Linked DNA regions of Homo sapiens. The protein of the gene in region 1 interacts with the protein of each later gene in a biochemical or structural test. Each region holds a gene or a part of one and is shown on either strand. Other genes may lie near its edges. The genes, in order: RAB27B and SYTL4.

Region 1 (4,125 bases):
ACTGGATTGTGAGATGAGTTTTATATGAGTAATTGTTCTATATTTCATGCCGTACTGATCTGAGAGCCCAAAAACCTAACCAAAAATTTGCAGGAGTGAGGGTGGGAAAAGAGCAGGTTTCTATTCTGAACTACCTGGACATTTGGATAACTTCCATTTTTCCAGAAAAACAGTGAAATAAATGAACAGCAATTCTGAAACCAACATACAGTTGTAGTGTAAACTGGCATACCAACTGATCTTCTACCAAGAAGATCAATTATATTAGGGTTACCTTCCCTATTGGGTCAAACATGCCTGTTCCAGAAATGACCTATGAGAAAGGGGAACTGTGGTTTGCTTACATTCAACAGATTCCCTTTATCCCTTCTTGGCAACTATGAGAACAGGCTCATCCAGTTTTATCTGCTATGTTTTGTTTTCCTTTCGAAAGCAATGACAGTAACACTGTATGAGAGGCCATAGTCAATTCTGAAACAGAAAAGCTCCATTAATATTAAACTATCTGTCAAGATTACCCCTTTTTGGTCATTGGTAGGAATCACCTCTTGCCTTCAAGGATGGCTGACCCCATCTGGGTAGAGGATTATGCTAGGAAACTATGAAAAATAACTATTTGAGGGGCAATGGCACATGACAGGTATGTCTCTCTCTTCATCACTGCAATATGGACTTTACAGCAGCTTGAAAATTCATTAAACTTAAATATCTGAGTTTATATTAATGCTTAAGTCTATCCTTTCCCTCAACTTTTCAAAATTTATAACCATAAAACCCTGTATATTCTATATATGAATGAATATGTGTGAATATAACTAAATATTGAGAACTGTAGACATTTTTCTTATAAACAGAACAAAATCAAAATTCAGAGCTGTATTATATTAAACAATAATTTTGTTGTTAATAACCTTGAAATTTATGTTATTACTTTGGGCTTAATTTAATGATGTGCAGTTTAAAACAACTGGAATTACATACCCTTAGCTTTACATCTTGACATAAAAAACTCACAAAACATGATACAGGTGTGAAGGCTCTAACCAAACACAGCTTTTTCCTAGGAATGCAGTCTCTGCTTACAGTTCACCTACTTCAGTAGTTTTCAGAGGCTTAATTAATGTTGCATTGGGTGGGAAAGTCTTGAAAGCTAATTTATTGTGATCAGTTGGGTGAACACACATGCACACATATACCCTAGTTGGTGCAACACTTAGATCAGAATTCGAAAGTAACAGAGCAAAAAATTGGAAAACAGAAAGTACTCTTAAGGTCTCTGTGGCTATTTCATCTAAGGAAGTGCATATAAATGTCTTATTGCTCTCCTGGCTTGCCTCACTAAGTCGCTCCTCCTGGAATGAAACTCTGAGCACATCATCATCCATGCTTTTTCTTATTCATTATTTTGATTGTTTTTTGAGATGCAAATGAAAGGAAATTGGCATTGCTGTGCCTAGGCTTTTTGTTTTTCTTTTTGCTTTTTTTGGTGGTAACCAGCTGTTTGATAAGCAAACACTCAAGGAGAGCCAGGTCGAGTTGGCCCATGCCATCCGTGCAGCACACAGCACTACTGTCTTCTTTGCAAGGATTTCTGCTGGAAACCGCGATCGAAGGTGCACACGCACTCACACATGCACACACACACACACAGAGGCCTCACTTCCCACGGCGCAGGCCGGCGCTGCAGCACCCGGGTGGGTGGGAACGCGTTCCAGCAGCAGCAGCCCGCCTTCCCAACTCACCAGCCTGCGAAGTTTCCTTGCCGGGAGAGCAGGTGTCAGATTTCAGAGAGGTTTCCTTCCCCTTCCCAAGCCCTGGAACTCCCGGGCTCCACCGTCAGCAAGGAGACAGGATCTGCTCCACAGGGCGATGAGCACGGGGACAGCTACTTATCTCCTCCAACCTGTGGCTCCGGATGGGTCCAAGGCCGGGCGGTCCGCAGCCCCTGCCCGTCAGGACTGCGAGTGGCAGGGCTGGTGGCACCACCCTCGGAGTCCGCCGCGGCGGCGGGGCTGGGTAAGGTTTGTGTGAGAAGAAGGCGTGTCTGCAAGTCCCAACGCGGATGTGCGGAGCTCACCTCAGGCAAGTCTTGCTGGTGACTCAACTGCTGCAGTGAGAAACACACTCCTCTCGGGGATGAAGTCTCCACACTGTGGGGCTTCTAGCCTTACCAGCGAGCTCATTTTTATTCATTTTTGTTCTGTGTTTTCTTTGATGTCTCTCATTCAAAGAGCCCAGGGCGCTGTGAGAACTGGGGCCCTGACATTGCGTTCTCTCCTCCGAGGGGGTGTCTCATTAACTATGAGGAGTGAAGGCGAGGGATTGCGAGTGGGGAGCAGAGGATGGCCTCGGGAAATAAAAGAGGGCGTTGGAAAGAAATTAATATTTTAAAAGTTAGGATGTGTTCGTATGAATGCATTAATCAGTATGCAACATCCAAATTCACTTCCCAAAGCCCTAATTCACTTCCTAAAGTCACTTCAGAGATCAATAGGTTACCACTAAGTAAGATAATGAGCACACGGAGGCATTGAACCAGTATTTGTTAAGCACCTACTATGTGCTATGCCGTGTTCTAAACACATTAGATTCGTCCACAAAGCAAAGATCCTGGCTGCCCATCTTGGGATTCCATTTTAGACACATTCAGACATCCCTAATTTACAGACTGGTAGTAAAGGTAAGAATACAAGGTTAGGTACATTATAATAACAACCGATTTACTCCTCTGTGAACAAAATTTAAAAGTTCCAAACCTGTGTCTTGCATTCATGTTAGTAAACAACGAGATGCCAATGACTGCTTGAATTTTAATTACTTAACTTGTTTCTTATTCGATGCCCTAGAGACAATCTGGGAGGCACTGCTGTTATCAGCTCCCAGAGAATTTCTTGTAGAAGGGAGCAAAGGAATAGCCCAAACCAAAACACAAAACAAACAATAGCAAACTAGTGGAAAAATGGAATATTAGAGAAAACATTTTGGTCTCATAGAAATCTGTCTATTCTATTATGAAACTATTAAAGAAGTTCTATTTTATGTCCTTCAATGTTCTTGAAAGTTGAAAAGAAGAGTAATAATAATGTCTTCATAGTGTTATTGTGAAGAATTGACTTCATATCAGTAATGTGTGTAGAACGTGCCTGGCACAGTAAGTTCTATGAATGTGTTGGCTATACTTATAATTTTGGTAACAATCTATTCCATTCTCCCCAAGTAAGATCCAGTTCCTAAAAATTATTTTGGATCTACTGCATAAAAGTCTTTGAGGCTCAGCCTGTAGATTTTCAAAGTATGTATGCTTGGAATCTATATTTATGATAAATCTACTTTGCATTTAACAGCAATATCTAAGTATATAAGAAGTGTGTGTCCATGGGCCCAGACAGAAATAAAAGAAAGAACATAAGAGCCTTGAATCTTTTCCACTGTTAACACATTGACTTAAAATCACCCTCTGTGCTATACAATGATAACCCATATTCTTTATCTAGTTCATGTGTTCACTACTGACATTAGTCCTAATAGCTATTATTTCCTGTATGCAATAGAGTTTCATCTCATTTGGCTTTCACAACATTACTGTGAAATAGGCAAGGCGTCTATTATATTTATTGTCTCCATTTTCAGAATGAGGTAACTGAGGTTGAGAAAGTCGCAGTAAATCTGTCCAAAGTGATGAAGTTCAAAAGGTGGAAGACAGGTCTATTGATCCTGAATGCCGAGCTCACAGTGGTCACTGTGTTGTACTACCTCACTGCAACTTCTAGAAAAGGTTCCTGCCATAAGAAAATCTGACACACACATTTATTGATGACTCTCCTTGCCACCTTTCCCTAGATAAGTGTGTCACCTGCTTTATAGGGCCAACTCTTGCAGGGATAGCTCTCCTGGAGTGACTTGCCACATATGGTCCTGTCTCCGAGGTTCCAAGGCTCAGATTCAGTAGTGTTACATAGTGACACTACCAGAGAGTGGTGGAACATTTCCTTCCCTGGGAAGAGGGGTTCCAAGGAAGAGAAAGAGTAGGAAGACATAAGAGAAATGTTGCTTGGCCACTCCATGAAGGCCACTTTGACCAGAGGTAGAGCAGAATAAAAAACAGTGGAAAACCAGTGAAAACAA
Region 2 (3,600 bases), on another chromosome or scaffold:
TTTGTATTTTTAGTAGAGACGGGGTTTCACCGTGTTAGCCAGGATGGTTTCGATCTTCTGACCTCGTGATCTGCCCGCCTCGGCCTCCCAAAGTGCTAGGATTACAGGCGTGAGCCACTGTGCCTGGCCTCTGGGTTCAACTTCTAATTCTAGTTCTCTTGCTATTTCTACCACATGTGTAGTGACTTCCTCCACTGAAGTCTTGAACCCTTCAAAGTCATCCATGAGGGTTGGAATCAACTTCTTCCAAACTCCTGTTAATGTTGATATTTTGCCCTTCTCCGTTGAATCATGAATGTTCTTAATGGCATCTAGAATGGTGAATCCATTGCCTTGAGTGGCATGTTGTCATTTACTGATATAAGAAATACTGGAGGAGGAACAAATTTAAGAGAAAAGATGGTAGGTTTAACTTTGGATGTGTTGAATTTGAGGTGTCTGCAGGACATTCAAGTGGAGATGTCAAGAACACAGAACTCAATAAAGCAGTCTGGGTAGAGTTATAGAATTAGAGTTGTGACCATATATATGGTAATTAAAGCCAAGTGAGTGAAAAAGATTATTTGGGGGAGGGAGTATATGTATCCTAGCCCTGAGAATGTCTGACTTTCAGAGGTCAGATAGCAGAAGAGTGGCCTACAAAGGTCACTGAGGAGAGGGCAAAGGAGTAGGAGGAAAAGCAAAAGAGTAAAATGTCATAGATGCCATAGAAAGTTTCAAGGACGAGGAAATGGTTAACGGTGTTAAATGTAGGGGAGAAGTCAAGCAAAATAAGGACCAAAAATACCTTACTTATTTATGGATTTATTGACACTGAGGGTCATTGTTTGTGTATCTCATTGAGAAGTTTCAGTGGGGGAAGGAAGCCAGACTGCTGAGAGCTAAGAAATGAATGAGAAGTAAGGGAATAAAAATTGCAATTTCACCTGTGAAGTACATTTTCAATACATTTGCCCATAAAGAGGACCTGAAGAGGGACCTCCTGTGTAGGGAGGTTCTTTTTTTAAGATGGTAGATACTTGAGCATGTTTAATTGCTGATGTGAAATGAGGGGGAGAGGGATGGGAGAGGCAGGGAGAGGAATCTGCAATTACTGGGTAGGTATAAACATTTTCAAGTCTATTGATACATATTGCTCACGTGCTTTCTAAAAGGGTTTTTAACCAACATATGCTGCTATCAGCAATTAAGACAGCTTGTTTGGTGGCTACTTTGTCATCATTAAGTGTTATTAAAAAATAAAAAATATCTTTGCCAAAGAATCTCATTATTGTTCTAATTTGCTTTTCTTTGATTACTAGTGAGTTGGATATTTTAACCAGTTGTGTCCTTGAGTGTGTATGTATGAATTTAGTCTACGCTTTTGCCCAAAACGTTTCTATTTTAGACAGACATTTATTTGCCATAAAAGGCCACAAGTCAAAGGATCAGAATGGTATTATATTTTATTTACTCAAATTAGATAGTTCATACTCTTTTATCTTCTTAGAAGTGTGAGACAATTTGACAACTTTTGACTCAGCTGAACGAAAGAGACAGGTGATTTCACCGTCTAAGAGAGTGACCAACAGATGGAAGTAAGTGGGTGAGGAGGCACGTCTAGTGTTAGACCCCTATCCTCAGTCCCCAGGCTCCCATTCCTAACCTGGAAGGACATTCCTCTTGTGTCTCAAGGCTTTGGGTCCCAGAGCTCCCTTTTGGGCTGAGTGGCCCCCTGCTAAGGAGCCCGGGGCGCTGTGCGGCCCCTTTAAGAGTCCAGCTCCTCCCCGCTCCAGGGAAAGTTGCAGCTTTTTCCGCCTCCCGGGAGGGTGAGAAGGGCCGGCTGCCGGAGCTGGGTTGCGATCTTCCCGGAGCCGGAGACCCTCCCTTGAAACCGGCACTGGGACTTCTCGATCTCTGGAGGCACCTGTTGCAAGTGACAGGTAGGTCAACAGCCAGCGGCCGGCCCCTCGCCCTCGGTCCGGTGCTCCTTCTGGACCCCCAGCTCCTTTTCGCTGCTGAAGCGCCCCCACCCCCATCTCGGGGTCGTGCGTCTTCCCTACCCGCTCTCTGGTCCCCCAATTTTTCCTTCTCCCTAGCTGACCGCGTCTCCCCTCTCCCCGTCCGCCTCTCCCGACCGCATCCCCAGGCTTGGACTCCCGTCTGCTTGGGCGGTCCCTCCCGGCCACTTTTCTTTCTCCAGGGCTTCTTCTGGCCCCTTCCCTGACCCACCCAGCACTAATGCGGTCTGTGCCCCTCTGGGAGCCGCCTCCCCTCTCCTCTTCGGCTCCCCTCGCGGGGAGTGCCCGGGCTTTTTCCCGCCAGCCCGAGCTGGTGCCCCTCCCGAGAGCTGGCCCTGGGGGCGGGGGCGGGGCCGAGCTCCTAGCGGGAACTGCGCCCTCCAAGGCGTCCAGTCACCTTTTCGTGGGTTCCTCTCACAGCGCTCGGCCGTCGAGCGGGGTCGCTAACCCGCACTCTCTTCGGACCTACGACATCGCGGCTTCTCTGGCGTTGGCCAGTCAGCCACAGGTAAAGGCTGGAGGCTGGTTGGCTGGAGTCCTGCCTCAGTGGGCTCCCTCTGCGCTTGGGGCTGGGGACCTGGCTGTGTGCTGTGGAGCTGCTTTATATTGCCGCTCTTCAAGCAGGCTGTGAGAGATCTGGTACTGGAGGAGGGTCCCCGAGATCTCAGAAGGGGCACAGAATGCTTCTGTCTCCTGTGTTGGTTTGTAATGGGGCAGAAAAAGGTGTTCCTCCAACCCTTAACATTGAATGAGGTGGGATTTGGGGTGGTGAAATCATTTGGTTAGAATTCTGGTGGCTTGAAAAGTGGTGACTTTCTAATCAAGCTTTTCTTCCCCCAGTACCCTGCTTCTTCAGGATTAGAGGACGTAAAATTCCAGAGTACTGTGCTTGGCAGGGTTGACCCTAGACCTTGTATATTTGTGGCAAAAATGAGTCTTCTGTACATCCTGGACCTCCTATATTTAACTGGCTTATTTTCTGCTCTTTAAGCTCCCCACCCCCACCTCTCATAAATCTATTAATATTGAGGTATTAATGACTTAAGACTTTTGTCGCTGTGGGAACAATGTTTAATGCAGAGACGTGGCCTTGATGAAGTTTTCTGCGTTTTTGGTTGTTTGGTTTTTAGCACCCTAGTAGAAAAGCACCACCAACTTGGCTTGTGAGGCCCTTTTTGGGCAGAGGATGAACATTTCTGGTAACACAATTTCAGGTGTCTCACTCTTGGTCAGAGCAGTGAAATGGAGCTGGAGGCCTGTTCTGGGGTAATTGATCTGTGAGTATATGTAGCATTCTGGCTCTCTGAGCTTGTTAGGCTCTGGTTGTTAGGCTCCATTGAGCTGGACACTGTGATAAGTTCTTTACATAAAAATGCAATCCTCACAATAACTCTATACAGTAGGTGCTACAGTTATAACCATATTATGATGAAAAAGAGACTGAGAAGTTAAGTGCCTTGCCCTCAAAATCTCGGAGGCAGAGCTTGTGTTCCTATCCTGTCACACCACCTCTGTTGTCTTAGATGTTGGGAACACTGAATAGCTCATGGATGAGGACTAAGTGATTAAAAAATTGTCTTCCAAGCCCAAGTATATGTTT

Evidence for each region.
Region 2: the proteins of RAB27B (region 1) and SYTL4 form a complex in vitro, tested with the Homo sapiens proteins (one study listed by BioGRID).

Annotation. Positions count from the first base shown.
Region 1 is NC_000018.10:54,826,318-54,830,442, reverse strand, and holds the start of RAB27B (ras-related protein Rab-27B), read right to left. Parts: upstream 1,967-4,125; 5' UTR 1,743-1,966; intron 1-1,742. UniProt on the Homo sapiens protein: Small GTPase which cycles between active GTP-bound and inactive GDP-bound states. In its active state, binds to a variety of effector proteins to regulate homeostasis of late endocytic pathway, including endosomal positioning, maturation and secretion.
Region 2 is NC_000023.11:100,730,326-100,733,925, reverse strand, and holds the start of SYTL4 (synaptotagmin-like protein 4), read left to right. Parts: upstream 1-1,804; 5' UTR 1,805-1,922; intron 1,923-2,391; exon of another isoform or gene 2,392-2,420; 5' UTR 2,421-2,508; intron 2,509-3,600. UniProt on the Homo sapiens protein: Modulates exocytosis of dense-core granules and secretion of hormones in the pancreas and the pituitary. Interacts with vesicles containing negatively charged phospholipids in a Ca(2+)-independent manner.